Linked DNA regions of Homo sapiens: regions 2 and 3 are each linked to region 1. The links come from fine-mapping of genetic effects on gene expression. A gene starts in region 1. Each other region holds a variant in brackets. All regions are shown on one strand. Distances are from middle to middle.

Region 1 (5,922 bases):
AATGCCCATGATTAATGCTAGCACTTGCAAAATAACAAGAGCATTTGCCTTTCCAATTTCGTCTTAGTGTTTTAAGTTCTTCATAAAAACATGACCCACGACAGGGCCTTGAAGCCACCTCAGATTCTTCAAAGAGCTGACCAGCTAGAACATGAACTTAGAACTACTGCCCTCCCAATCACCTATTTACGCTTTAACCTTCACTTTCTACGATTAACAGATATTTACTTTACTTAATCTACTTGTTAGTGTGTATAATATCTATACATGTTGATGGCACCAACTTGAGTATATTAAAACACCCCCTTCATCTCCCTTACTGATATCAGCCTCATTGAGGCTCTTCTTACCTCTCTCTTCAATCTCTGTCCAAACACCTTCCACGGGGCGTCAACATCTCCAAGTTGTCCCATCCCAACCTATCCTATGACCTGCTCCAATATTCTCCTTCCCTAAACTCCCTTGCATTCTGCAGCTTCCATACTCAAAACCTTTAAGATCTCTTGAATGTTTCTACGATAATCTCCGGTCCTCTTAGCCAGACACTCAGGGCCCTCCACAACCTGATGACAACTTCATAGCTCCAATCCAGTCCAACCAATCCAGCTCCAACCCAACCTTGTGCTCCACCTCATTGTTTCTTTCCCTTGGATGCTCTCCATCCAGCTTTTACCACACTTCCACTTCAAGCCACACTTTCAAACCCTGTCACCTTCCTGGACCATTTTAGTTCAGAGTGATTTTTTCACCCACCTCTAAATATATAGACTACTCATTTATTTGGGCTCTAAGTCATACACTCATACGAAAATTGTTATGTGTAAATACTTAATTGTTAACACTTGACAAATGCAACAACAGAAATGGAATGAACTTTAGACATCATTTAATTCAGCATCTCCTGACATGCACGAAAATCCCCTTCCACATTTCTCCTTTGGGTGAATATCAATTGACAGGGTGCCGAGCCTCAAATGTGGCCATTTCGCCTCTGAATTGTTCTTAGACTGAGAGGCATCTGCTTTTTAAGAAAGGAAAACTCCATTCATCCCATTCCAAACAGGTGAGAATCTAATGCCATCAGGGAAAAAAAAAAAATATTTTGCTATCCCGTCTGAATTGAGAGTTCCCTGTGTACAGTTTACGTCCCTGTGAGCATCTACCACTCACAGAGCCACCCTAAGCACGCTCTGCAGTGTCAGCATCACCTGGCAGTATGCTAGAAATTAGAAATGCAAATTCATGAGCACCAGCCCAGACCCATTGAGTCGGAAATTCTGAGGGTGGGGCCCAAGAATGTGAGTTTCAACAAGTTTGAGAAGGACTGCGTCTCCTATATGAAATGGAAAACAGCTGCTCATCCTCTGTATCCTTGCATAATAAAAAATGATTAGTGTCACTATGCCACCATTTCCTCAGCGAAATAATTTCCATCCCCCCACCGCCTCCGAGGGTCTTGCACTCTCACCCAGGCTGGAGTGCACTGGTGCAATCACAACCCACAGCAGCCTTGTCCTCTCGGGCTCAAGCAATCCTCCCACCTCAGCTTCCTGAGTAGCTTGGGACTGCAGGCGCAACCACCACGCCCGGCTAATACGGCTAATATTATTTTTTCATTTTTTGGAGAGACGGGGTCTCGCTATGTTGCCCAGGCTGGTCTGGAACTCTTGGGCTCAAGGGATCCTTGTGCCTCGGCTTCACAAAGTGCTGGGATTACAGGCGTGAGCCGCCGCGCCCGGCTCTAAATAATTTCTTATCGCCCTCCCTCAGTTTGTTTTTCCTGTTATCGGGTCACCCACACATTCCACAATTGTCAAATAGGTGAGGGCACAGGTACGGAAGCGTCCCGCATTCCCTCCAGATTTTATCACGCTGAGACACAAAGAGAAAAATAGCTCCTGGCGACCGCATGAAAACCCCGATTTCAAAACAGCCACATGCAGTTTAATTTCCTTAAAAGCTTAGCCGGAAAAGGTTTCTGTGGCTTGCGACCCCAGCTGGGCTTGAGAGAAGGCTCTGCACACTGGGGCGGGGGCGGGCACAAGGTGATCGGAGGGAGGGGGATGACTCGCAGTTGTGTTTTGAGTGGTTGCCTTGGGTTATCTTGTTCCTCCAGCACACACACACTCAGTTTCTTGTCATAAGGGGAACCCTGTTATTTTGTAGACAAAAAGTGACAGAAGCAACTTTCGAAGCAAAAAAAAAAAAAAAACAAAAAAAAACAAAACCAAAAAGACGAAGAAGAAGAACAAAAGTCAACGTGAAATCTCCCCAGAGGAAAAGGAACCGCGCTGTTTGTCCCTCAGTAACTGAGCAACACCCCGGACACGAAGGGCTCCCTGTGACTTCTGCGGTTTTTCTTGCACTTCTCCGCGTTGGTTCACTTCCACCCTCGAAACTCTCCAGAAGCGAGAAATAAGGCGGGGTGGCCGCCACCCCCAGGCCACCAGCTGTGCGGGGGCCCCAGCTGCAGGGGGTCCCGGCCCAGCGTCCCTCTCGGCCCCTTCCCTCTCCCCCGGGGGAGAAGGGGCGGGTCCACGCGGCCTGGGCGCTGCGCCCGACACGCGGTAGGGGTCGCTGCGTCTCGGCGCGCGCTCCCACCGCGGTGAATAACGGGGCCTGGCTGGAGGAGAAAGGAAACCTGCTGCGGGAGGCGGCGGCGACCGGCCAGGGAGCGAGGGAGGAGAGTTCACTTTTACTTCAGTGTCAGCGCGCGGCGGCCGTGGCTGGCTCTGGCGAGAGAGCACCGAGGGAGTGGGTCGCAGATCTTCGGGCGGCTAGGGGAAATCGGCGAGAGGCGGGATCCGAGCGCGCCGGCGGGGCGCAGAGCCCGCGAGCCTGGCCAGCGAGGGTAGCCGCGGGGGGCGCGCCCCGGGCGGGCCCCCGGAGACGCGCAGGATGCCACACGAAGAGCTGCCGTCGCTGCAGAGACCCCGCTATGGCTGTAAGTGCGCCGGGCGCGCGGGGTTCCTGCTGGCCTTGGGGAGCTCCCTCCCCGAGGACGGCGTTGGAGAAGCCGAGGGAGCCGGTTGCGCGGCGCAGAGGAAATTGGAAGGCAGCAACTGCGCGGCTGGCAAAGTTGGGAGCTGGAGTTGCAAAGGGCAGTGAATCGCGTCCCCCCGCTCCTCCCGCCCCCCAATTCCTAATATCCAGCTGGCAACCCAGACCCTCCACTCCGCATACCCAAACGGGGTGCGCGGGCAGTGCGGGGATTGCGCTCTGGGACAGACCAGGTTGGGATTTTAGGGGTATCAGGTGAGGAGTCCGCGGAGCTCCGGGTCGCCGCCGGCTTGGGCCAGGGGGTGGCGTAAGGCACCGGATTCTTCCAACCCAGAAGGGGAGGAAAGTTTGTTTGCTGTGGCTACAGGTGGGCACCGCAAGTAGGGCGCCGGCGCACTCTGCTAGTGCAAAGCCGGCTTGACTGGAAGGGCGGGAGTCTCCTCCTGTCCCGCGCCCTCGAACTTCACCTGACCCGCTAGAGCCATTGGCCTCACAGGTGTAAGTCCCTCCCCTCTGAAACCCCCCAACCCCTTTCCCCCCCGCTCCCCTCGCGCGGGAGGATTGCTGTGTGGAGAGGACGCGGCACTAGGCTCCGGGGAATCCGGCGGGAGCCCGCGTGACTTGAACGAGATGGTGTCGATTACCCAGCCAGGGGCTGCCCTCGGAAATAGGTTGCTTTGGCCGATCGTGAGTGGATGGAGCCAGATTAACACCAACCACGTGGCTTCATGTGCAGAGTTCAGAGTCCTAAACATGTGCCAGGAAGCATTTCCTTTAAAACAAACAGAAAGTTGGCCTGCTGTCTCTCCAAGGTGGCCCTGTCAGTGAACCCAAGGCCGAAGACCACAGGTTAATCTTTGCCCAGGCTGGCCTTGGTGGCAGAGGTACCAGGTTTGGGTTAAGGTGGTGATACCTTCAGCAGGGTGTTTTGTTTGTGTGTGTGTGTGGTTTTGGATGGTGCGTAAGGCCACTGACTTGCTTAACTGAAAAAGGGCTCCTCAACTTGTGTAGGTTCTTTCCCCTCCTCCCCGCTGGCGTGTCAAAGATGGGAGGTTATCTTTCCTGTGTTACCCTTGCAGTGAGGGGGAGGCCTGAGGACTACAGCCTCTGTACTCTAATGCATTCAGCAGTTGACTGAGACCCAGCTTTTTGCCTTTTGGTAAACCACACAGACAGCAGAGCCTCTTGGGTTCAAGAGGGAACGCTGTGCTCATTCAGTGTTTGCAGTGCCAACCTCAGGTGGGACCCAGCTTTTTGCCTTTTGGTAAACCACAGATACAGCAGAGCCCGTTGGGTTCAAGGAGGAATGCTGTGCTCATTCAGTGTTTGCAGTGCCAACCTCAGGTTGGTGGAAGTACTTTAATGTGACCAGCTCTCAGAATATATGGTGGCTTCACTGTGTCAAATGATAAGATAACCACAAACTTCTGCAAACTAGGTGAATCTACATGAACAAATGATTTCTTGCTATCACATGATTGATGTCGGCCCTCATGAGCAATAAATAGTGCAAAATTTCCGTGAATGTGGTACATGAATGCAGCATTTCTGTCAGTCCCTGCATGTGCATCTGTGATGCTGCTTGATTTTCACGGAATAAATCTGTGTTTTAAGTGCACTCCAGAAGAAGCTATCAAGGGAGTCCAGATCTGGCAAGCCTGAAGCCCACTCCACAGGGCCGCTTTCTTTGGAAATCTTCATCCAGCTTTCTTCACCAATGTGGTGTAAGGGGGTGGTGTGCCATCTTGTTGGAATCACTCCCGGTTACTTTCCCTCCACTCATCAAGTGCTGGCATTCAAGTTGGTCACTTAACACTGTCAAAATGGAAAATATTTGCCTATGTTTCCAGACTTTCTTGTCACCCTGAAATATTAAGGCTTTAATATGACAGTTATCTCATTAAAATGAACACTTTTATAATTTTGGTTTATGAATGGTGTATTTTCAGTGTATTCAGAACATGATATCTAGCAGAATAGATTTTGGCGTTAATAGGCATTACCTAACATTACCTATTCATGCAGAAGAGGGCTATTTGGTGTGTTAGTGTAATTTCTGGTTGTTGTTGGCTTTCTGAGCCTCCTATCAACATGAGACTGAAAATCGTGCTGTGAGCTCTTCATGGGAAGGCTAGGGAAGGATAACACAGGATTGTCCTTGCTCTGTTGTGTTCTAGGGCTGTGCTTTTTCTTGTTTATTGGTTTGGTAAATACAGTTTCAGTAAAACCTCAAATTATAAGAAACAGGTGTTACCCCTAGCATTTAAAAATAAAGTAGCAATACATTGTAATTTCAGTTCTAGTGCTGAACGTTCTGAGTATAAGATGTTTGAGACTGGGCTTTAAACACAACTTTTTGGTAGTTTGAATTAAGTTGTCTATTGCTTATTTTGGGTCTGAGCTTCTGTTCTGCTCTCTCTCCTACCCACTTGACTCCTCATTTAATTCAGTAGTTCTTACACAAAGTAACTAACTCAGCTCAGGGCTGCTATGGTCTTTCTCCTCTGTACCAGACTGAATGTCTGTAAAAGGCCACATAATAAATTGTACTTGAGGGATTTCTCAATGAGTTCTCCATGAGGCCTCTGACTCTTCTCAGGTTTCTGACAGATGCAAGATTGCTGAAGTCGCCCTGATTTGCACACAGGAGCACTGGATTGAAATTAAATAGACTATTTTCTATTTAATTTCCACTGTTATTGGCCACATCTTCCTGCAATCTGTGAAGCTATTTTTGTATAATGTTAATACTACAAACAAAGCTGAAACAATTCAGTAACACAATTCTGAAGGGAAGAGGTGGAAGAAGGAAGTGATAGTAGGTAGCTGTTTAAACTAATGCAGACATAGACATAGTATGTACTATATATTGTATGTATAGTATTTTTCTATACTCAACCAAATTAAGATGACACTTACGCT
Region 2 (5,922 bases), 140 kb after region 1:
TACTTTTATATACCTGCTTGTCATTAAGAAAGCTCTACTTTTCAAGAATGCTGGAAAGAGCAGCTTTCCCCCGCTATAAACTCATAGCCAACCTTCACTTATATGAGAACATGCAGAGCATAGTTTCATCTCCTTTGAAATACTGTAATAAGAGTTTTAGATGTATTTGATTCAACGTGCAGAATGTTTATTTTTTGTGTGCGTGTATGTGTGTATGTGTTTGAGACAGCGACTTGTTCTGTCACCCAGACTAGCATGAAGTGGTGCAATCACAGCTCACTGAAACCTCACCCTCTTGGGCTGCAGCAATGCTCCCACCTCAGCCCTCTGAGTAGGTGGGACTATGGGCATGCAACACCATGCCATACTAATTAAAAAAAAAAATTGATAGAGATGGTGTCACACTGCTGGGCACAAGCAGTCCTCCTGCCTTGGCCTCCCAAAGTGTTGGGATTACAGGCATGGGCCACTGTGCCCGGCCACTATTTTTCAGTTAGTTGTGAGCATTTAAAAAAACAGAAGAACTCATAAAAAATCTGAATCTTCCACTTTTCAAGAAATCCCAAAGGTCAGGCCCTTGTGGTCCACATTTCCACAAGTAGCTGTGAGCTAGAGCCAAGTTGCTTACAGCCCCCACCCAGCCAGCTTCGTTCCTTACCGGTACCGGCCTCACCCCTGCAGGTATCTGTTTCCAAGCCCGCCCTGTTAGAGTGGATTTTCTGAGGCTAAAGTTAGTTTGGATTTATTCCAACTTATATAAATAATCGAGGTGATTAGATATGACTAATACTTCTGTTCTACCTAGCTACTTAATACCTCCACTGACACTTTCTTTCCTGATAAAATCTGAAATCTCTTCATTTATCCTTGCATCCCTTGAGCCCCTTGAGGGACAGGTCTTATCAACAGATTGGTTTCTACTGGTTAAAAGTTGCATTAAATTTGTCTCCTCATACCTGGAACAATTGGATATCATGTTTTGCATCTGCCCATCAGGTAGATACACCCTTTTAGCTCTGCCACATTCTAACATAGAGTGGCTCTTCTGTCATTGCCACCTAATTGTAGGCCTCTGCTTGCTAGTTGTATCCACTGTTTACGTTATAGAGAAATCTTTTCACATATGTAAGGACTTTATATCTGTGTGTGTGCCCATTCATTTAATAGTCTTTGTATATGCTAGAATTAAGGCACAAGAAATACAAATGTTTCATGTCTGTGGTCAGGAAATACAGTTAGCAATGGCTGTAGCTGTTTAGATTGTGAAGATGATAATTGGCCGCTTCAGATCCTGTGTCTTACAGATAATCAGTACTGGAAGGTGTAGGGTGAAGCTGCGTCACAGCCATGAAATGGAGGCATTGTGAAACCCAAGCCGGCCCAGAACACCCTCGCAGCATGATTTGTTATTGCACAGAGCTGGCTGTACTGCTGCTCAAGCCATATTTCCTGAAACTCAAGAACGCCAGAGTGGAATAGAGTTCTCTTATAACCAGCTCCTGTTCCCTCAAACCTTCGCATGACACCCCTTGTGGTTTTCAGCCCGTCTCTCTGTGTGGTCGCTAATGACTTCATTAAAGGTGAAGCATTTCAGTGATCAAGAGCCAGTGCTTGATGATGGTTGGAGGGACGTAAATGTGCAAGCGGGCCTCAGAGCCTAGGTGGACCGGCCTCCTTGCCTTCACTCTCAGGCATCACGGCCCTCCAGCATGTTTCTCTGAGGAGCTGTTGATCATTTGCCCAGGAGATGGAGCTGGGAACCTCGTTGTCACCAAGTCAGTACCAATGATTTGTGCTTCCTGTCAGGGAAACCTGTGGTGCATGTGTTTGTCTTCTGCTTCTCAGCCAGTTTCTTTTTGCATCCATCAATCTCTTCTTATCTGTCTTCTTTTTCCTGACTGGGCATAGTAGTCAGTTGTGAGTTTGGACTTGTATTTTCTTATTTTGTAACAGTTTGTTTCCTGGCTTCATCTTGCCCCTCCCTCCTAAAAGCTCCACTTGTCTTTTATTTCTCAAGGTAGATGGGACGAGGTTTTTTGTTTTTTGTTTTTGTTTTTGTTTTGTCAGGTTGACTTACATTTCCCCCCATTAGGGTGTGCCGCAGAAAGAAGTTTTCTCTATTTCTGATGTCTATGTCAATACAGAACAATAATGAAATTGTTAGGCAGGTGAAATGGTACTTAACTATCTGTCTGGAAACTCCTAAGCGCCTGCAAGTCTTTCTGAGTGAGAATTTACTGTGGATAGCAGTTAAGATGCCCCATTCCTGAACATGCTGTAGGAATGGGTCCTGGTAGGCATCACTTTCTAGCCAGTCCAAAGCCACGCTTTCCTGGCAGCCTGTTCCTCTCATCATCTTCCTGTTCCCATGGCCATGGCACCCCAAATGTCTGCTGCTCTGACCAAAAAGCTGGCAGACAGTAAATAAACTGACTTCTAAGATAAGAACCTTCATTTGAAACAATTTTTAACATGCCTTCTTTGTCAAGGAGTAAAGACCCTGAATCCCCCAGGGGTTCCTACAGCCCACGATGGTTCACAAGAGAGTCTACAATCCTCAGAGCCAAGAAGCACTGAGACTCAAGGACAGGGCCACTTGACAGAGAGAGCAGTTCCCAGCCGACTTGGGGCCTAGGAGGATATTCTGGGTGGCAGGGCTCTAATTGATTATTAACCTACATATAAAATCAAGGACATATAGCCAAGCACAGCAGCAAATGCTGCCACCTTGTGAGCTGCCTGTGGTTGTGCTGGGTGGAGATGGATCTAGCTAAGGCACACCAGGATGCAGCTTAGAGAGAACTTGGTCAGATTTTTACTGCTTCTGGTATAATTGGAACACTTTACTTCTTAAGCCTACTGTGTAATGTTATGTGTACAGAGTGAGTGGTTGCTTAATTAAGTGCTTTAATTTTTTTTGGTCATATATACACGTGGTGCAAAATGTAAAAGGCCCAAAGGAGGGGACAGTGAAAATTATATCTTTCTCCCACCCAGTTCCCCTTCCCAAAGGTAAACATTATTGCCAGTTTCTTTTGTAGCCTAGTGGGAATAATTTCTGAATAGTTATCCATACTTTATAGGTAACTCTATAGCGATAGAACTATATGTAGTTCTATACAGTATGTATGTAGTTATATACAGTACATATATATGTCTACAGTATATATGTAGTTATATACAGTATATATGTATATATGTACTATATGTAAATATATACATATGTAGTTGTATACAGTACATATATACATATCTATAGTTTTCTTCTATATAGTTATCTCTACATATACATACATATATACACATAACTATGTATATAAAACTATACAATTGTTACACTGTTGTGTAACATGGATGTGTATACAATAGCGATATGATTAAATATTTCTTATTAATGATGATTTCCTGCAGCCTTTCAATCTTGTTAAACACAAGGAAAATTAGAAATGGACCGAACAGAAGTGGCATCATAAAA[G/T]GCAGCTACTGTTTGGGAGCAAGGGACATGCCGTGGAGAGGAAATGTGTGGTGGTCTGAAATTGCACCAGTTTCCACTACAATTTTAAAACCATGCCTAGCCTTGCCAAAGGACCTCGGGGGCAAAGGTTAAGCCGACACACCCTTTAGGTCATGGTACACAGTATCTCTGGGCACATGGTGGACTCTGGTTTGTGCTGGACCCCTAAAAGTTATTTCCTTTTATCCCTGGTTCCCTCCCTCCCATAGGCAACATTCTGATATGTATACAATGTATCATTTAGATTTGTGTGTATTCTTGCAATGGATCTTGTTTTGTGTGTAAGTATTTTTAATTTATGCAAATGGTATGGCTATCTCATTCTGTTCCTTAGTTTTTTTTACTAGGCTTTGAAAGTTCCATCCATTTTACTAGGTGTGAATCCACTTCATTGCTATCTGTCTTTGTAGGGCCAAACTGAGATTTGGAAAATACTTGAAGCAATCTTTGTGACTTTTTACCCAGGTTTTTTCACATGTTGACACACATGACAAAAAGTGCATGTACTTTTGTGTTACTGTTTTACTCACTTTACTATTTCAACTTTCCTCCATTTTGCTAATTTGTCATAAATATTAATGGCTGTATAGTATTCCATTTATATAATCAGTTATTACTTCACACTCTCTCCTGTCATCAGACATCTGAGTTTTTTATTTTTAATATCATTGTGGTTACATGCGTATCATTGGTCTTTGTTGATTTTCTTTTTCTTAAGCCAGAACAGATGCCCAATAGGGAATTATTGAGCCAGAGAAAAATTCTCCTATAGCATGTGATGGAAGTGGCCACATTTTACCTCTTGCTTTATTTCCAGAAATGAACACAGGTGTCTATATCCATTTAATACACCCCTTTTTGGCCGGGTGTGTTGGCTCACACCTGTAATCCCAGCACTTTGGGAGGCCGAGGTGGGCAGATCACTTGAGGTCGGGAGTTCAAAACCAGCCTAGCCAACGTGGTGAAACCCCATCTCTACTAAAAATACAAAAATTGGTCAGGTGTGGTGGCGTGTGCCTGTAATCTCAGCTATTCCGGAGGCTGAGGCAGGAGAATCCTCGAACCTGGGAGGCAGAGGTTGCAGTGAGCTGAGATCATGCCACAGCACTCCAGCCTGAGGGACAGAGTGGGACTCCATTTCAAAAAAACAAAACAATACACCACTTTTTATTTGTAGTGCACTATACTTAGAGCTGTTGCCATAGGAATTGATATACCAGGCGTCATGGTGGTCAGCAGACAAATAGGAAACTCCTGTTATGTCGTCAGAATGAGTTGCAGAGAGTACCATCTGCTACCTGTATTGTACATCTTTCTGTTCCTCTGTCACGCCTGGCACAAGAGCAGCATTGGTTTAATCATCAGCAGCCCTTCTGCTCTCTGTAGTCAGGATTGGCAGTAACTCATTGGTGGGCAACACTGCCTTGGTCTTGCCGCTTGCACTGTGAACTGTAACTACGGACACACATGTCAGGAAAGAATGGTGCTTGGGATGCTCCTCCTATCTGTGCCTCAAACGTTTTCACTCGAGGGATATTAAAAAGTGGCCTACTGCTTATAAAGACTGTGTGTCAGTGAAGAGGAAGAGGTGGGAGTGGAGAGTGGGAGGCATTTGCAAGAACATATGTTGGATTCTTTTTTTCTCTTCTTGGTGACAATGATTGACGGCATCTAGTGAGTCCCTGTTTGTCACTTCCTTGGTACAGCTGGTAGTGGAGGTGGGGGAAATCAATAAGGGCTGGACAAAGGACATAGCTAGAGGAAGAAAGCACTGCAAATATGGTATTAAGATGACATTCCTCACAGTTGAATTTTTCACTGTGCTATTACTTCACACTACCTGCTGCGAGCTATTCTCTTTTGATCCTTTAGGCTGTAGAGGAATCAGTCTGTGTAACTCTCCCTCATTCACCACCTCCAAGAAAGGGTTAACTTTGGACATAAGATAACTGTAGTTTAAGGGGAGGAAGAGAAGGAAGGAAATTCATACTGGATACAGCTTTTGCCAGTTTTGTTTCTTCTATGTTGAAATATGGGCTGGCTTTATGGCATTCTCTTGGTGTTCTGGAATGTCCATTATTTAACAATTCCATATTGAATACTTGCTTGGGGCTTAGAAGAGGGAAGTCAAGTGTAGGAAGGAGTTGTGGCAATTTAAGTAAGTTTACAATGATCTTATTAAGCTTGTTGCTTTCATTTTCCTGCCTACGTTGGGGCAAAGACGTGTTAAAAGTGCAAGAACAGTGATTATTTTGTGGTTAGAGCATGTGCACAGTGTAGACAAACCCAGGAAGGAGAATCTGCTTCATCAAGTCTTAAGTTGTTATTTAGACCAAAATGTATGCGTAAGCCTCAGATGACTGTTGATGTGCCAGGAAACTTCTGCTGAGTACTTTCGGTTCTTTCTT
Region 3 (5,922 bases), 210 kb after region 1:
CATTTGCATAACTTAGAAAATAGTCTTTTGTAAGTAGATATTATTTTTAAGCAAAAATCTCATTTGATTGCTGTGGCTTTTATCTATCAAGGTAACAGCACTACTAAGTTATTCTCCCTAGGACATTTCACACAGCCACTATAACACTTCTGTTAAGTATCTTGTCATAAAGGACATATACCATAACCAGAAAAGGTATTTCAGACACTAATATTTCCTTTCTGGAATTTGGGAACTTTAATACAGAGTATTTAATTTATCTGTGTCTTGGTTTTATTTTTTTCTTTTGTCAGAATGAGTTCCTGAAGTATTGAGTTTGATATCATGTTTAGGCAATTCTTCAAAATCTAAAATTTCTAAAATACACCATTGTAACCAGGCAGGAATTGCTCAGTATAGTAATTAAGTCATCTGAGGAGCTGAGAATTTTTCATGGACGTTTTGAAGGTGCATTACTCTTGCCTCCCCACCTTATTCTTGCCACATGCTCTGAGATCTAATTCCATATCTGAGTTGTGATGTGGGTGAGGTAAGCAGCTAATGGAAAATGAGAAATATAGAAGGTGAATTTAATGGAGAAGCTAGCTGCTGAATGCATTTCCTCAGGCTCTGTTGATTTCTTACTGAAAAGTTTACTTTTCCCAGTAGAACCATAAAGGAGCATTATTTTAACCTTATAGCCTACATCAGGAAGTTTTCTTCTTTGAGTTTTTGCTCTTTAAATTTGGTAGGTACAATTCTGTGTAGGTTACCTCATCTGCTGCCTCAAATACATGAACTCTAAAAGAACGCCCACTCTCTTGTGGACTAGAATGTTATAGTAACATGTGTTGATGTAAAGAAGTGGACCGTGGGCTGAGTGAAGCTCAGCAATCTTTCTTCAAATAGGATTTCCCTTTTATTTATAAACAGAGGAAGTGATGCATATGTTCCCAGAGGGCTTCTGGGTAATCTTTCAGCTCCTATGATGTCATTCACTATGACCTCAGCAGCTTGTATTCTTAGAAACGCAGCAGACAGCAACTTTAGCAGGTGATTTCAATCAAGTCAGCTGAAATGCACTCACTTCCAGGTGATCGGCCTTGGTTCTGTTAAGACCATTTTTGGATGGGGTGTTTTAAAGGTATTTAGAACAGCTTACCCAAGGGGGGTGACCAGAGAATGGCACTAAATATTCCATGCACTCCAGTTTATAAATCCTATAGGGTAAAACGACAGTACCTTGTATATAGATAATACTTAGACTTTCCAGAGTTCTGTCAATGTTTACAGATAATATAACCTGCACATTAGAGAAATACTTCTGCTTTTTCTTCAAACATATTTAAGTATTATAGTCTGGAATGATTTCTAGGAGTTTTAGATGGTTTCATTCTTCTTACAGGTAAATCTTTTCATTCTTAACGAAGTGGTGGTTATGGGCTCATCTATTCAAGAAATATTTAGCTAAATATTTTATCTTTACTTGAATGTCAAGCTGGAGATACTTTTTTTAAAAATGAGAAGTACTCATTCTATTTCATGGCATATCACAGTTGTGAAGTGACGGGTGATCATTTTAGATTAAATCTAATGGAAAAAATGAGAAATATGAAGTTTGACCTTAAAAATGCTTATATTCTAAGCTTATTGTTCATTAATATCTAGTTTCTTTAACAGTTCTTATCCATCAGTACTAACCTAGGAAGCAAAAGCTCCTTGGCAGTGTGTGTATATGTGTGTTTTATATATATATGTGTGTGTGTGTGTGTGTGTGTGTCTGTGTGTGCATGTCTATCTAAATGCATTTTTTTATGAATGGATGATAGTTTATTTTTTAATAATAAGGTATTGAGAAGTAACCTCCAGATAGATCCGTTTCATTAGAATTGTAAAAGCAGGTTTCATAGTTTGACTTCTGTGCTTTTCATTTGTGAACCCTATAGTCAGTCTTGTTCTCTCTTTCTCTCTCTCTCTCTCTCTCTCTCTCTATATATATATATATATATATATATATATATATATATATTTTTTTTTTTTTTTTTTTTTTTTTTTTTGGTGGGGGGAACAGAGTCTTACTCTGTCACCCAGGCTAGAGTGCAGTGGTGCAATCTTGGCTCACTGCAACCTCTGCCTCCTGGATTCAAGTGATTCTCCTACCTCAGCCTCCCAAGTAGCTGGGACTTGAATAGACACTTCATTTCTTTAAAGATGATGTACAAAGGGAAAATAAACACATGAAAAGATGCTCAAAATCATTAGTCACTAGAAAAATACAAATCCAAACCACAGTATGATACCACTTCACACCCACTAGGATGGCTGTAATGAAAAAGACAATAACAAGTGTTGGTCAGAATGTAGAGAGCTACTCAGGAGGCTGAGGCACAAGAATCACTTGAACACAGGAGGCGGAGGTGGCAGTGAGCCAAGATCATGCCACAGCACTCCAGCCTGGGGGACAGAGCAAGAATCTCTCAAAAAAAAAAAATAAAAATAAAAACCAGCAGCTGGGACCTTGATAGAAGTTGCATTGAATCTGTAGGTCAATTTAAGAAGTATTTCCATCTTAACAATACTAAATCTTCCAATTCATGAACATTGGCTCTTTTCATTTATTTGTCTTTAAGTTTTTTCCCATGGTGTTGTATAGTTTTCAGTGTACATGTCTTATGTTTCTTTCATTAAATTATGTCTAAATATTTATTTATAATTATAATGTATTTGTAGTTGCAGTCTTATGAATTGAATGTGTTCTTAATTTTATTTTCAGATTGCTTATTATGAGCGTATAGACACATAATTGGTTTTGTGCTTGCATCTTGCATCCTATAGCCTTGCTGTACTAGTTAATTAGCCTTTTGCAATCGGTGATACTAAAGAAGTTATAATGTACTGTGACTTAAAAGGAAAACTACTTCTTCATTTTCTAGGAGTTGTAGCTGTAGGGTACATCAATGAAGCTATTGATGAAGGGAATCCTTTGAGGACTTTAGAAACTTTGCTCCTACCTACTGCGAATATTAGTGATGTGGACCCAGCCCATGCCCAGCACTACCAGGATGTTTTATACCATGCTAAATCACAGAAACTCGGAGTAAGTTTTAGTATATCTGTTTCTTTTAAATTTTACAGGCTGGGTGGCAGAGGGAG[A/G]GAAGGAGGAGGATTTGACCCATTTACGTTAAATCTCATGAGCTTCTTGTCCCAACAATTACCCATGAATCAGAATGGAAATAATAGAGCTGTTATTTTCCTGGTAACAAACATTGGGGGGAAACCAGCTCCAGAGCTATTTATTGCTTTAATTCTTTGACTAAAAACTCAGTTGTAGGTGAGTTCTTGTTCAGAGTTCAATTCATTGACTATTTCCTTAGTAGATACTATGTGCACACTTCAGTCCATAGCTTCTGGTAGAGAAGATGGGGATACAGAGGGACACATAATACCATTTGAATGTTCTCTGACCTTATCTTCAAAATGCTTAGAAACTGATTGAGGCAGTGGACATTGTCACATGGAACAGTCAAGTAATAGTAAAGATAAGGGTGTGCAAAGTGTCAAAATGAGAGATACACAGATTGATTCACGGATGTTTGAGATTGTCGGGGACTAGAATCCTAAGAGAAGTTGGTGTGGAGGTAGAGCAGAAGCTGTCCTCTCGAAGACTAGTGGCTTTTTCTGAGTACAGAGCTTGTACCGCTATTATAAGGAGCCCCACAAAGACTGGCCTCTGTGATAAGGCCAATGGGCTGAGTGGTGAGGCTGATATGATCTGTCACCTAAGAGTGGGAGTGATGCCACCTGGGACCTAGCTACTTATGGCTGCCATGTCTTCAGGTGCAAACCCAACTGAAAGGGCGGTCATCTCCTCTGTCTAGGTCTTTAGAACCTAGGAACTGCCTCATTCGAAACAGGAAAAACATCCTTGGTTAATGCAAACATTTATTGAGAACCTACTATTTGTCAGGCATGATATTAGATACTCATGTGTATCATCTCATTTAATCATCACAACAATTCATAACAGCCTTCTGAACCATTTTGCCATCATTATTGCCATCTTACACATAATGAAACCAAGATTAAGTAACTTGTTGAAAGCTATCTAAAATGTGACCGGGCACAGTAGCTCACACCTGTAATCCCAGCATTTCGGGAGGCCAAGGCAGGTGGATCACTTGAGGCCAGGAGTTCGAGACCAGCCTGGCAAACATGGTGAAACCCCATCTCTGCTAAAAGATAAAAATAAAAAATAAAAAATTAGCCAGGTGTGGTGGCTCACACCTATAATCCCAGCTACTTGGGAGGTTGAGGGACAAGAATCTCTTGAACCGAGAGGTAGAGGTTGCAGCGAGCTGAGATCGCACCATTGCACCCCCACCTGGGTGACAGAGCAAGGCTCTGTCTCGAAAATAAATACATAAAATAAAATAAAACAAAATCAAGCTATCTAAAAGATAATTAGTCCTGAGACTACATGCAGCTCAGGTCTGTCTGATTCGGAAACATTATAATTATGTATTAAGGCAGATGGGAAAAGATGTTTATTGCAGCTTTGTTTGCAATCACAAAACATGAAAAACAACCTAAATGTTGTTAAGCAAAAAAAAAATCATGCTGTGATGTGCACATAGATGGAATATAGATAGGCTTGTGTATGTGTTGGGGGAGGGGCGCACACACTCTTACATGTGTCTAAAATATTTCTGGAGGGAGGATACCTTCTGGAAGGTGAACTAGAAGGCTAGTATGGATGGGAGATTTATTCTTCACTCCGTTTTTGTACTGCTTGGATTTTTAAATTTTTTAAGGAGTGTGTGTATTAAATAATTACTGTTTCTAAACTTTTAAAAACCAATGTAAATCCTATCCTCACTACTCCACTGCCTCATTGAAGGTGGAGAAATGTATCCCCCATGGTGGCGCCCTCTGCACTGCCAGCCTTCCAACAGGAACGGCAGTGGCATTGCCTGACCCTCCTCACTTTGCCAAGCGCCCCCACTCACATCAGTCTTTCTCATTTAAGCCTCATACCACCTGTGGAATGGGTGCTGTCTCATCTGATGTGAACGAGCCTGAGGCTCAGGGCGAATGCCTGGCCAAGGTACAGCCAGTGAGTGGGAGAGTGAGGGCTCATACACAAGCCTGGAGTCCATACATCCCAGGGGCAGGAGAGTGGGCCTTCACCTTGATGTTTCCACTGAGGTGGCTGTGGCCATGGCACATGGTAAACTTACAAGCATTGGAAGACAAAGTTATTTGCTTTGAAGATAGACATCATTCAAATCCTGGCTTTGCCACAAATTAGTTATGTGATCTTGGTCAAATCATCAAATCTCTATATGCTTATTTTTGCATGTATAAAATTGGAATAATAGTACCTGTCTTATAGGATTATGGTGAGGGTTCAATGAGAATATACAATATGTAAATATATATCAATATATAACTATAGGTACTATTAATGAAGAATATGTGCACGTGTTTGTGTAGCTATAGCATTTAGCATGGAGCCTGGCACCAAAAAAAGGGCTTAAATAATGTAGCTAGTATTATTGTGGGCACCTATGGTTGCCTCCCAAGTAAGGGGCGAGTGATGTCAGTATCTTAAGGTTCTTTTTTTTGTGAGGTGGAGTCTCGCTCAGTTACCCAGGCTGGAGTGCCGTGGCGCCATATCAGCTCACGGAAACCTCCACCTCCCAGGTTCAACCGATTCTCCTGCCTCAGCCTCCCGAGTAGCAGGGACTACAGGCACCTGCCATCAAGCCCGGCTAATTTTTGTATTTTGTAGAGACGAGGTTTCACCATGTTTTCCAGGCTGGTCTTGAACTCCTGACCTCAGGTTATCCACCTGCCTCGGCCTCCCAAAGTGCTGGGATTACAGGCATGAGCCACCGCACCCGGCTTCAAGGTTCTTACTAGACGTAGAGTCTGCTGAATTTA

The links. PIP is the estimated chance that this variant, and not a neighbour inherited with it, causes the effect.
Region 2: its variant is fine-mapped to the expression of IQGAP2 in whole blood (INTERVAL, PIP above 0.99).
Region 3: its variant is fine-mapped to the expression of IQGAP2 in whole blood (TOPMed, PIP above 0.99).

Annotation. Positions count from the first base shown.
Region 1 is chr5:76,400,648-76,406,569 of GRCh38, forward strand. IQGAP2 (IQ motif containing GTPase activating protein 2) reads left to right here and starts at 2,638. Exons shown (of 36, transcript NM_006633.5): 1 at 2,638-2,944. The coding sequence starts at 2,899. RefSeq lists silencers at 2,320-2,669, 2,840-2,949 and an enhancer at 2,603-3,103.
Region 2 is chr5:76,541,780-76,547,701 of GRCh38, forward strand. The region is part of intron 2 of IQGAP2 (IQ motif containing GTPase activating protein 2); the gene reads left to right. Among named protein-coding and RNA genes, the nearest start is that of F2RL2, 79 kb to the right of the region's middle. RefSeq lists a silencer at 2,767-2,816 and an enhancer at 5,751-5,922. The variant G/T (reference allele first, on the strand shown) is at 3,476.
Region 3 is chr5:76,608,108-76,614,029 of GRCh38, forward strand. IQGAP2 (IQ motif containing GTPase activating protein 2) reads left to right here. Exons shown (of 36, transcript NM_006633.5): 13 at 2,913-3,076. It overlaps LOC101929109 (a long non-coding RNA gene), which reads right to left and starts at 862. Exons shown (of 2, transcript NR_134278.1): 1 at 753-862. RefSeq lists an enhancer at 725-774. The variant A/G (reference allele first, on the strand shown) is at 3,133.